Linked DNA regions of Homo sapiens: region 2 is linked to region 1. A link means that fine-mapping ties the variant in region 1 to the expression of a gene that starts in the linked region. Tissue or cell type: whole blood. Region 1 holds a variant in brackets; the other region holds the start of a gene. All regions are shown on one strand. Distances are from middle to middle.

Region 1 (5,224 bases):
GAGGTTAGAATCAAGATGGAGTAACTATGTCAGATTTCTCTTACTGTCAAAATTTTGCAAAGGCGTTTTCACTTCTGGCACCCAAATCTGCAAATGAGGGGAGTTGGGCTGACTAGCATATCTCTAAGGACCCTGGGATTCAAAATTATATGTGGATGGGTGCTTTCTGTGTATATGCCCTTATTGTTCCTTAAAAAAAATAATGGTGTTGCAAACTCACATCTCACCATACATTCCCGGGAAAATCAGCCAAATCCAGAATAAATGTGCATGATCCTTGCCAGCTGAAAAAGGATTAAAAAGAGAGAAAACACCTGGCACAGGCCCTTGAAATACTTTTGCTCAAGTCTATTAAACAAGGCACAAATAACACTTGAGATTGCGATAATCTAATAATCTTTTTGTGAACACTATAGCTAAAGATAGATATGAGCAGGGGCTTCATCAAGAAAGGAGGGCAAGGCTGGGCGTGGTGACTCATGCCTGTAATTCTAGCATTTTGGGAGGCTGAGATGGGTGGATCACCTGAGGTCAGGGGTTTGAGGCCAGCCTCGCCAACATGGTGAAACCCTGACTCTATAAAAATGCAAAAATTAGCCAGGCATGGTGGCAGGTGCCTGTTATCCCACCTACTTGGAAGCCTGAGGGAGGTGAATCACTTGAACCCAGGAGGTGGAGGTTGCAGTGGGCACTATTGCACTCTAGCCTGAGTGACAGAGTGAGACTCCATCTCAAAAAAAAAAAAAAAAAAAAAAAAGAGAAACAAAAGAAAGGAGGACAATGCACTCATATTCTCAGACCGCTTCATTATAGAGTTCTTATTACCAGCATAACATTGCCTGCCACTGACTCAGAGTCACACGTCTCTGCTCCACAAAGAAAGAAGCTGTCCTTGCCGTGGGTGACAGCCATTGAGAACTACAGACTTCTCTCCTGCTTGAGAGAAATGCGGCACAGGAAACAGCAAGAATAATTCTGATCAGTGGTTGTCAGGCAGTTTTGTAACTTACAAAGTATTTTCCCTTGTAGAGTTTGGTTCATCTAAGATCATGGAAACAGGAAGTGGCAAACTCCACAGTAGCCACAGACAGGAGCTATGACCAGGGCCTCATATGATGCTCACAGCAGTAAGGCTTGGCTCTATATACCAACACAGGTATATAATAAAAGGAAATTAAAATATTTTATCCTAGGCCAGGCGTGGTGGCTCATGCCTGTAATCCTAGCACTTTGGGAGGGCAAGCTGGGCAGATCACTTGAGGTCAGGGGTTCAACACAAGCCTGGCCAATATGGTAAAACCCCATCTCTACCAACAATACAAAAATTAGCTGGGCATGACGGTGCATGCCTGTAATCCCAGCTACTAGGGAGGCTGAAGCACGAGAATCACTTGAACCCGGGAGGCGTAGGTTGCAGTGAGCCGAGACTGCGCCACTGCACTCCAGCCTGGGCGACAGAGCAAGACGCTGTCTCAAAATAAATAAATAAATAAAATAAATAAAAAAAAATATTTTATCCCAAAACCTATTTCTGTGACGTATTTTAAAAGGGCTATCACTTGGCCTATCACTTCTGACAGAAGTGGATTTGCAAAGCTGCCTTAAGTGGGGAAAATTTGCATCTATAGAGAACCTTCATTACTGTAACCACGCCCCCTCCCCTTTCTATACCTTCCCCGCTCCAGGAAAGATTGAGAGTCTGACACCTTTTAAAGTCTTAAAATAAACATTTACCATCTATTTTCTTTGGGGAAGGTTTCATCTATGTAACAAGGCCATCTTTGCTAGCCAAGCTTCTTCCTTTCTGTCTCTCTTCACATGTCTTGCCACTAAACCTGACTGACCTGTTTCTGGCCATGCTCTGAGTCTGCATTCTTTACTGTGGCCTCAGTATGGCATATAAGTTTCTGTTACTCACTGGGAAGTTGGCCTTTTCATTTTGAAGCCTCCTGTGTATATACATGTCTTACTCTATTCTTGCATTGCTATAAATACTGGAGACATGGTAATTTATAAAAAAAAGAGGTTTAATTGGCTCATGGTTGTGCAGACTGTACAGGAAGCAGGATGTTGGTATCTGCTCAACTTCTGCTCAGGAAACTTAGAATCACCGTGGAAGGCAAAGGGAGCAGCAGGCACTTCACATGGCCAGAGCAGCAGCAAGAAAGCAAG[T/C]GAGGAGGTGCCACACACTTTTAAACGATCAGATCTCATGAGAACACACTCTCTATTGCGAGGACAGTACCAAGAGGGATAGTACTAAACCACTCATGAGAAAACTGCCCCCATGATCCAATCACTTCCCACCAGGCCTCACCTCCAACACTGGGGATTACATTTCAATGAGATTTGGGTAACGACACACATCCAAACTATATCAACATGTTAAATAAATTTGTATACCTTTTCTCCTATTAATCAATCCGCTTTATGTCAGTGATTTTCAGCGAGCCTTTAGGAGGCCAAGAGCCTATGGCCCCCACAATACCACTACAGTACATACAGGCACTATATACCAGGAATTATAAATTTACACGTGTCTTCCTACATGATTGCATTTGATGCTTACATTCCTATTACTTGCAACAAAGTATCTCACCTAATAAAATAATGGAAAAGGTCTATTCCCTTGCCCTAACTACTTTTCTCACACACACGCAAAATAACAGTCCTGGCGGGGCACTGTGGCTCGGGCCTATAATCTCAGCATTTTAGGAGACCGAGGCAGGCGTATCACTTAAGGTCAGGAGTTCGAGACCAGCCTGGCCAATATGGTGAAAACCTGTCTCTACTAAAAATACAAAAATTAGCCAGGCGTGGTGGCGCATGCCCATAATCCCAGCTACTTGGGCGGCTGAGGCAGGAGAACTGCTTGAACCTGAGAGACGGAGGCTGCAGAGAGCCAAGATCATGCCACTGTACTCTAGCCTGGGCAACAGAGTGAGACTCTGTCTCAAAAAACAAAACAAAAACAACAACAACAAAACAGTTCTGCTGGACAAATGGAGTTTGTATTATTTATCATATTATGTATTGGAGAATCTCCACACGGTATGAACCCTCTTAGGTAGATAAGCAGGGCAAGAATTATTATCTCTATTTTGTAACGAGAAAATATTACTCTGAAAAAAATAAAAAGAATTTAACCTGTAATCTTTGCATTACACTCTATACATGCTGCTATGTCTCTATACATGCTGCTAGTATTAGGGAAGTTTAACCTCAAAAAGTTTCCCAGAGTTAGGTAAAACGGTCATAAATTTGATGTGGAAAAATAATTGCTTCAGTATAGTCAAGGAAGACAACTAGGAAATATAAAATAATGGGGAAAAGGTGTGGCTCTGAAATCAAATTAAAAATATTTGTATGATAATCAATAAACATACTAGTGGAACTGAACAGATAATCTAGAAATAGATCCTAGTTTATGTGAGAATATATCATAAAATTAATAGTTCAGTTCGATGGGGGAAATCATGGATTTTTGAATAACTAGTACCTGCACAATTGGCTATTAATATGGAAGAAAATTAAACTCTGTAACGTATACCTTCATACACACACTAACATCCAATTTTAGAAGATTAAATACCTAAATGTCAATACTTGTTGACTAAATAATGACAAATTGAAATAAAAACTCACACACAAAAAATCAGAATGACTACATGTATAACAGAGATAGGGAAGGCTTTCCCAATCAAAATTTAAATCTAAAAACTCTAAGAGGGAAGATGAGCTTTTTATGATAAAAGATAATATATCATAAACAAATGATATATTGGGAAAAATATATTTATAATGCTCATCAGGTAAAAGATAAGTATCTCAAATAAACAAAAAAACCTACACTTTTTAAAGAAAAGGACAACTCAAGAGAAAAATAGGAAAAGGATACAAATAAACAGTTCACAGATAAACACCTCCAAATTGCCAGCAAAACATATGAGAAAATGCTCAAAGTCAAGGACACGTAATACCTTGTCAAGGACAAGATATCCTTTTATATCTATCAGACTGAAAAAAATTGAAGAGAGCTATAATATTCATTGCTGGCAGCGATGTGGGGGGAAAAGGACACTGTTTTACACTGATGATTTTTTAAAAAGGAACTTTGTTTTTTTTCTTTTTTTTTGGCAGAGCCTCATTCTGCCACCCAGGCTGGGGTACAGTGGCACATTCCCAGCTCTCTGCAACCTCCACCTACCAGGCTCAATCAATCCTCCCCTCTCAGCTTCTTGAGTAGCTAGGACTACAGGCATGTACCACCATGCCCGGCTAATTTTTGTATTTTTTGTAGAGATGGGGTCTCCCTATGTTGCTCAGGCTGGTCTTGAACTTCTGGGCTTAAATGATCTACCTGCCTCAGCCTCCCAAAGTGCTGGGATCACATGAGTAAGCCACTGAGCCCGGCCATGACTTGCTAAAAAAATATTTGGAAAGCAATCTTGGAACTTCCACTAAAATTTAAATATACATGTCCTTTGACTCAATAGTTTTACTCTTGGCATTCTATCCCATAAAAATAAAATCACTAGTGTGATGGAATACATAAAAATGTTAATGGCAGCATTCATTTATTCAACACATTTTATTCAACGGCTATTTTATGCCTGACACTCTTTCAGGAGCTAGAGAACAACAAAAAGATTCTTGCTGGGTAAATCTTGTTGGGGGAGGTAGACATGAATAATCTTAATAAGTAAATAAATACACCCTAGTATATTAGAAACAGATAAGTGTTTAAAAACAAGCAAGAGCACAGTAAGGGGAATCAGCAGAGCTGAGATGATAGGGCAGGGGTGTGAGTTGCAATTTCAGATAGGTGGGTGTCCTACTCAGCTGGGGCTGCTATAACAAATTACCATAGACTAGATGGCTTAGACAACAAATGTTTATTTCTCAGAGTTCTGTATGCTGGGAAGTCCAAGGTCAAGGGGCCGGCCAATTCCGGTCCTGGTGAAGAAGGTCCACTTCCTGGTTTGCAGAAGGGTGTGGTAGTGTATATTGACAGGGTAGATAGAAGAAGCAAGCTCTCTCCCGTCTCTTCTTAGAAGGGTACTAAGCCCATCATAAGGGCTTCCCTCTCGTGACCTAATTACTTCCCAGAGATCCCACCTCCAAATACCATCACTTTGGGAATTAGGGTTTCAACACGTGAATTCTGGGGGGATACAAACATTCAATTTATTGCAGGAGGCCTCCCTAAGGAGGGAGCTGAGCCGAT
Region 2 (5,224 bases), 78 kb after region 1:
TTAAGTTTTACTTGCTAACTTTAGCATTCAAGTCAGTGTATTCTGCCTGCAGCAATTACTGCTGCAGGCCAAAAAAAAAAAAAAAAGGTTCTTAGATCAGCCCTTCGGCCCCTCACCCTCTTTAGTGAAGTTACATGTTTATAATATAGTTTAACTGATTTGTCACAGCCTGCATTCCATCCCCAGAAATGCTGGCAGATTTATTAAATGTGCATATAGTCAAGTTTACTCTTTCTGGTGTATAATTCCACGGGCTTCAACAAATGGCTAAGACTCATGCATCCACTACCACAGTATCTTACAGAAAAGTCCTGTCACTCTAAAAAGTCCCCTGGTACAGCTCCTTTGTATTCAACTCCTTCCCTCTTTCCTGACTGCCAATGATTAGGTTTTCACTCCTGTTTTGTCTTTTCCAGAATGGCATTCTTATACATGGAATCATACAATATGTAACTTTTTGAGTCTTGCTTTTTGCACTGGGCAAAATGCAATTTGCTTTGCTTGGGAACCCTGTACCTTCGTAATGAATCATCACATTCAATAGTGTCTCTTGGAATTCGCCCCCCTTTTTCCTTTCCCTCTATTACCCCATTCAGGCTCCTGTTACCTCTTGCTCAGTTTTGTTTAGATCCTATCTGCTTTGATCCACTTTCCGCTGCCTGATTAACCTTCCAGTAGCACACCTATTTCATGTCATTTCCATGCTCCAATAGCTTCAAAGCTTTCCCACTGCCTTCAGGAAAAAGTTCCAACTCAGGCATTCACAGCCATTCAAAATGTGGTCTTAATTCACCCCACTCATCACCACCACACAGGAGCCACTATTCTTATCAGAATAGTGAAGTTTAAAGCCATTCTCTCTACCAACACAATTTCTACCCATCCTTCAAATTCAGTTTAAATGACATTTTCTTATAGACCAACCTCTACATGTTAGCATTCCTCAAATCTTTGCCCTAGGGAACTTCCCTTCTCTCTCCACACTTCTCCCTAGGTGGTCTCATCCAATCTCCTGGCTTTTTATGCTGAGTACTCCCAAATCATGTCTCCATTATGAACTTCTCCTTGGGGTCCAAACTTGTGTATAACTGCTTATCTGATACCTCTAATTATGTGTCTAACAGGAACCTTACCCTTAATATGTCCAAAACATAATTCTCTATGTTGTTCTTTATGTTATTGTTGTTTGCCCCACAAACAACAATATACTATTTTTCCCTGCCCTATCGTCCTCCATCTCAGCCAATGGCACATCATCTACTTTACTGCTCAAGTAAGAAATCTGAGTTACCCTTGACATTTTCCTCTCTACTCTGCCACGCTGAACCATAAGTTAGTTCTCTTAAATGTCCCTTACGTCACCACCCTAATGCAAACTATTACCAATACAATCTCTTGAGCTTCCAAATGTAATACATTTTCTAAAGAGAACCAGGGCCTATTCATGATTCTCACTTGCTTACAAGTCTTCAATGTTTTCTACACATGGTAATAGGAACGGAAATGTTTTCCTATTGTACAGAAAAAAAAATTCCCCATCATGACCTTCAAGGCCCTACAGAACCTAGTTCCACTCTATCCGGCTAACTTTATCTTGTACTCTAACTATACTCCTTCCTAGCTCCCATCTCAGGAACTTAGCCCATTATCGCCTCTGCTTGAAGTACTCCCTGAGCTTCCAAATCTCCGTTTAAAGATCACTTCTTCAGACTCCACTATCTGCCAACTCAGCATCCAGTTCGTTTCCTCCCAGCACTTAGAATCTGCGTACATTCAGGCAAACCGCCTAGCACTGGAGTTGGGGTTTGTGAAGTAGCACAGACAGGCTGATCAGGCCGAGCACGGGCTGGGATTCCGGAGTGAAGCTAGTCCACTCTAACCCGGCACGCAGGGCAACGTGGTGGGAGAGAGGTCGGAGTCCCGCCCTTCTTTTTTTTTTTTTTTTTTTTTTTGAGACGGAGTCTTGCTCTGTCTCCCAGGCTGGAGTGTAGTGGCACGATCTTGGCTCACTGCAAGCTCCGCCTCCCGGGTTCACGCCATTCTCCTGCCTCAGCCTCCCAAGTAGCTGGGACCACAGGCGCCCGCCACCATGCCCGGCTAATTTTTTGTAGTTTTAGTAGAGACGGGGTTTCACCGTGTTAGCCAGGATGGTCTCGATCTCCTGACCTTGTGATCCGCCCGCCTCGGCCTCCCAAAGTGCTGGGATTACAGGCGTGAGCCACCGCGCCCGGCCAGTCCCGCCCTTCTTGCCAGGCTCCAGTCAGTCCCAAACTCCTAGCCCAGAAAGAGGCCAGAGGAGACTGCCCAGTGGACAACAGCCCCGAGAGACCTTCCCGACTTCCAGCGCCCGGCAGGGTGCGAACCCCTCCCAAGAGCGACCGCTGAGCCTGCCACACTCACCGCACACGTGGGACCGAGACAGCTCGCGCAGCGGATCCCGACCGCCTCTCCGCTTCCGCTTCCTTGCCTTGCTCCGCCCCCGGGCCGCTTTTTTTCATCTTCCGCGGCGGATCAGGGACTAAGAGGTGGAGCTTCCCAGAGAATACAAAAATTCGGAATTTCTATTGGTCCGCTGCTGTTATGCCTCCTCTTGAGGCGCGAGGATTTTGGCCCTTGCAAGAATCCGTCGGGCGGAGGACGCGACAACGGCCACGGGAAATGACGTCATTAACCCTGTGGCTTCCGTGCTGGAAAGAGAGGGAGAGCTCTTGCGAGGCAGAACAGGCTGCTGAAGGACAGACCTGGCTGGCGCGGTTAATAAGAGGCCTGCATCCCGTAGCCTGAACAAATATTGAAGTAGCTAAAGTTTCTAAAGTGTGTTAATTTGCATACTTCCTCAGCAGTCCAGCGTGGAGGATAAAAGGGGTATCTTGTGAGTCGATTTGAATTGTAATCCCGTTTTTTTCACTTGCTAGCTGTGTGGCTCTGGGAAAATTACAGTTTTTATGAGCTTTGGCTTCCTGATCAATAAAATAGAAATAATTAAGTGATACGTGCAAAGCGCTTAGCATGGAACGCTCTCAATAAATGTTTGCCATTTTTAGTGTCTGCTCGTGCCTGGAAACTGCTGTTATTCCATTTTATACTTCAGGAAATAAGATTGTGGTTAGGATATATGCCCCATTTTCCAGATGAAGAAACTGACACCACAAACTTGCTCGTGTCAAGCAACAGAATTTTATTCTTTAACTGTTCTAGAGGCAAGAATTCCAAAATCAAGCTGTTGGCAGAGCCCTGCACCTTTTGAAGGCTCTAGGGGAGAATGCTTTGCTTCTTCAGCTTCTAACGGTTCCAGGCGGTCCGTGGCCTCTTGTTGCATGACTCCAATCTCGGCCTGTCTTCTAATGGCCTTCTCCTGTGCCTGTGCCACTTCTCTGTGTGTTTTTAGGACACTGAACATTGAATTTAGAGTCCACGGGGATAATCCAAGATCATCTCATCTGGAGGTCCTTAATCACATCTGCAAAGGCCCTTTTCCCAAATAAGGTCACTTTCACATGTCCTGGGAGTTAGGACATAGACATATCTTTTGGAGACTATTCAACCCACTGCATCTGTAAAGTTGAGGAACTGGCACTTGATCCCTGGTGCCAGACTTCAGATTTTACTGTCTTCCAACTTACTCCGTTTTCTGGCCACTAAGGAGTTAGAGTTGAAACTGGTAATTTAGTAGACTGTATGCTTCTTGATGACAGGGGCCATCATTACTTTCCAGGCACTTATCTCACTATGCAGCACATAGATACTTGATAAGTTCTTGTCGTCTACCTTAACTGTTACTAGTTTACATTTCAGCTCATTTAAATCTCATAAGAACGTTTTAAATAGGTCTTTTCTCATTTTACAGAGAAAGGCAAAACATAGTAGCTTTGGTCCAGTGAGCCTGACTCTAAACTCAACGTGGCTGCCTCCGTACTGCTTTCAATAATTCAGTAAATGCTAAGAGAAGAGAATATGGAACAGGAATTGCAGGAGGCCCATCAGCTGTGCCTTTTGGGCAAATAGCATAGTAGTGGGGATATTAGACACCTTGAAACACCTGACAAGTAAATGCTGGCCAAAAAGAAAGAAAAATCGCAAAATACACCCTATCACACAACCCTGGGAAGGGATACGTTTGTGTTTTCAACTCGACAGACAGCAGCACCCCATATCCTTGAAGATAGGTCCATGCAGTTGCCTTAAGCATCTGCACCAAAACCCTGCTATTCATTTGCCTTTTCACCAGGGAGGAAAAAAAAAATGTTATCACATATCAAAGCCCTTGATTATTATTAAAAACTTTTTTATCAAGTCTTCTGTGAAAGTGGATTGATTTGGATTTTTTTTTTTTTTTTGGAGTGAATTGAAAGCATCGTGTGGTTTTGCAGAACAGCACAAAAAAAGCTTATCCTGTAATTTTTTTTTTTGTCAAGCAAACCCATTAATTCTTCAAATATCTAATGATCTAAATGTAGACCACTAGGTGTACTCCTACAAGCCTAAGATGCTCTTCTTGCGTGATACACAATTTAATCAGAGCAACTAGACTTGCACACATCCAAGAGGTTAATAACAGTACTATAGCAATGCAATGACGAGCATTGAGATTAGAATCAAAGGAACCTGGCTTACAATCTAAATTCTGTATGGCCAAGGACAAGATAGCCAACTTGTATGGGCCTCAGTTTCTGCATATGTAAAATGGGAATAACAACACTTGTTTCTGGAGTTGCTGTGAGGCTTAAAAGTGATAATATCTTAAAGTTCTTAGCCAGTAGTAAATGTTGAGTGATTTGTAGCTTAAGAGAGAACCAAGGTGTACCCATTTGAAATACTTTGGGGCCGGGCGCTGTGGCTCACACCTGTAATCCCAGCAGTTTGGGAGGCCAAGGCAGGTGGATCACCTGAGGCCAGGAATTCGAGGCCAGCCTGGCTAACATGGCCAAACCCCATCTCTACAAAAATACAAAAATTAGCCAGGTGTGGTGGTGCATGCCTGTACTCCCTGCTACTCTGGAGGCTGAAGCATGGAGAATCGCTTGAACTGGAGAGGCGGAGGTGCAGTGAGTGGAGATTGTGCCACTGTACTCCAGCCTGGGCAACAGAGTGAGACTCTGCCTCAAAAAAAAAAAAGAAAAAAAGAAATACGTTTGACTTCACATAACGGAAAGTTCAGCTAATGGTGGCTTAAGCAATCATTTTCTTAACATAAAAATTTGGAAGGTACTTGGTTGTTGTGGTT

Evidence for each region. PIP is the estimated chance that this variant, and not a neighbour inherited with it, causes the effect.
Region 2: it holds the start of PUM3, and the variant in region 1 is fine-mapped to the expression of PUM3 in whole blood (TOPMed, PIP 0.98).

What each region holds. Positions count from the first base shown.
Region 1 is chr9:2,763,581-2,768,804 of GRCh38, forward strand. No RefSeq gene overlaps it. Among named protein-coding and RNA genes, the nearest start is that of KCNV2, 49 kb to the left of the region's middle. The variant T/C (reference allele first, on the strand shown) is at 2,173.
Region 2 is chr9:2,841,645-2,846,868 of GRCh38, forward strand. PUM3 (pumilio RNA binding family member 3) reads right to left here and starts at 2,451. Exons shown (of 18, transcript NM_014878.5): 1 at 2,401-2,451. RefSeq lists enhancers at 1,480-2,041, 2,425-2,719, 2,543-2,782.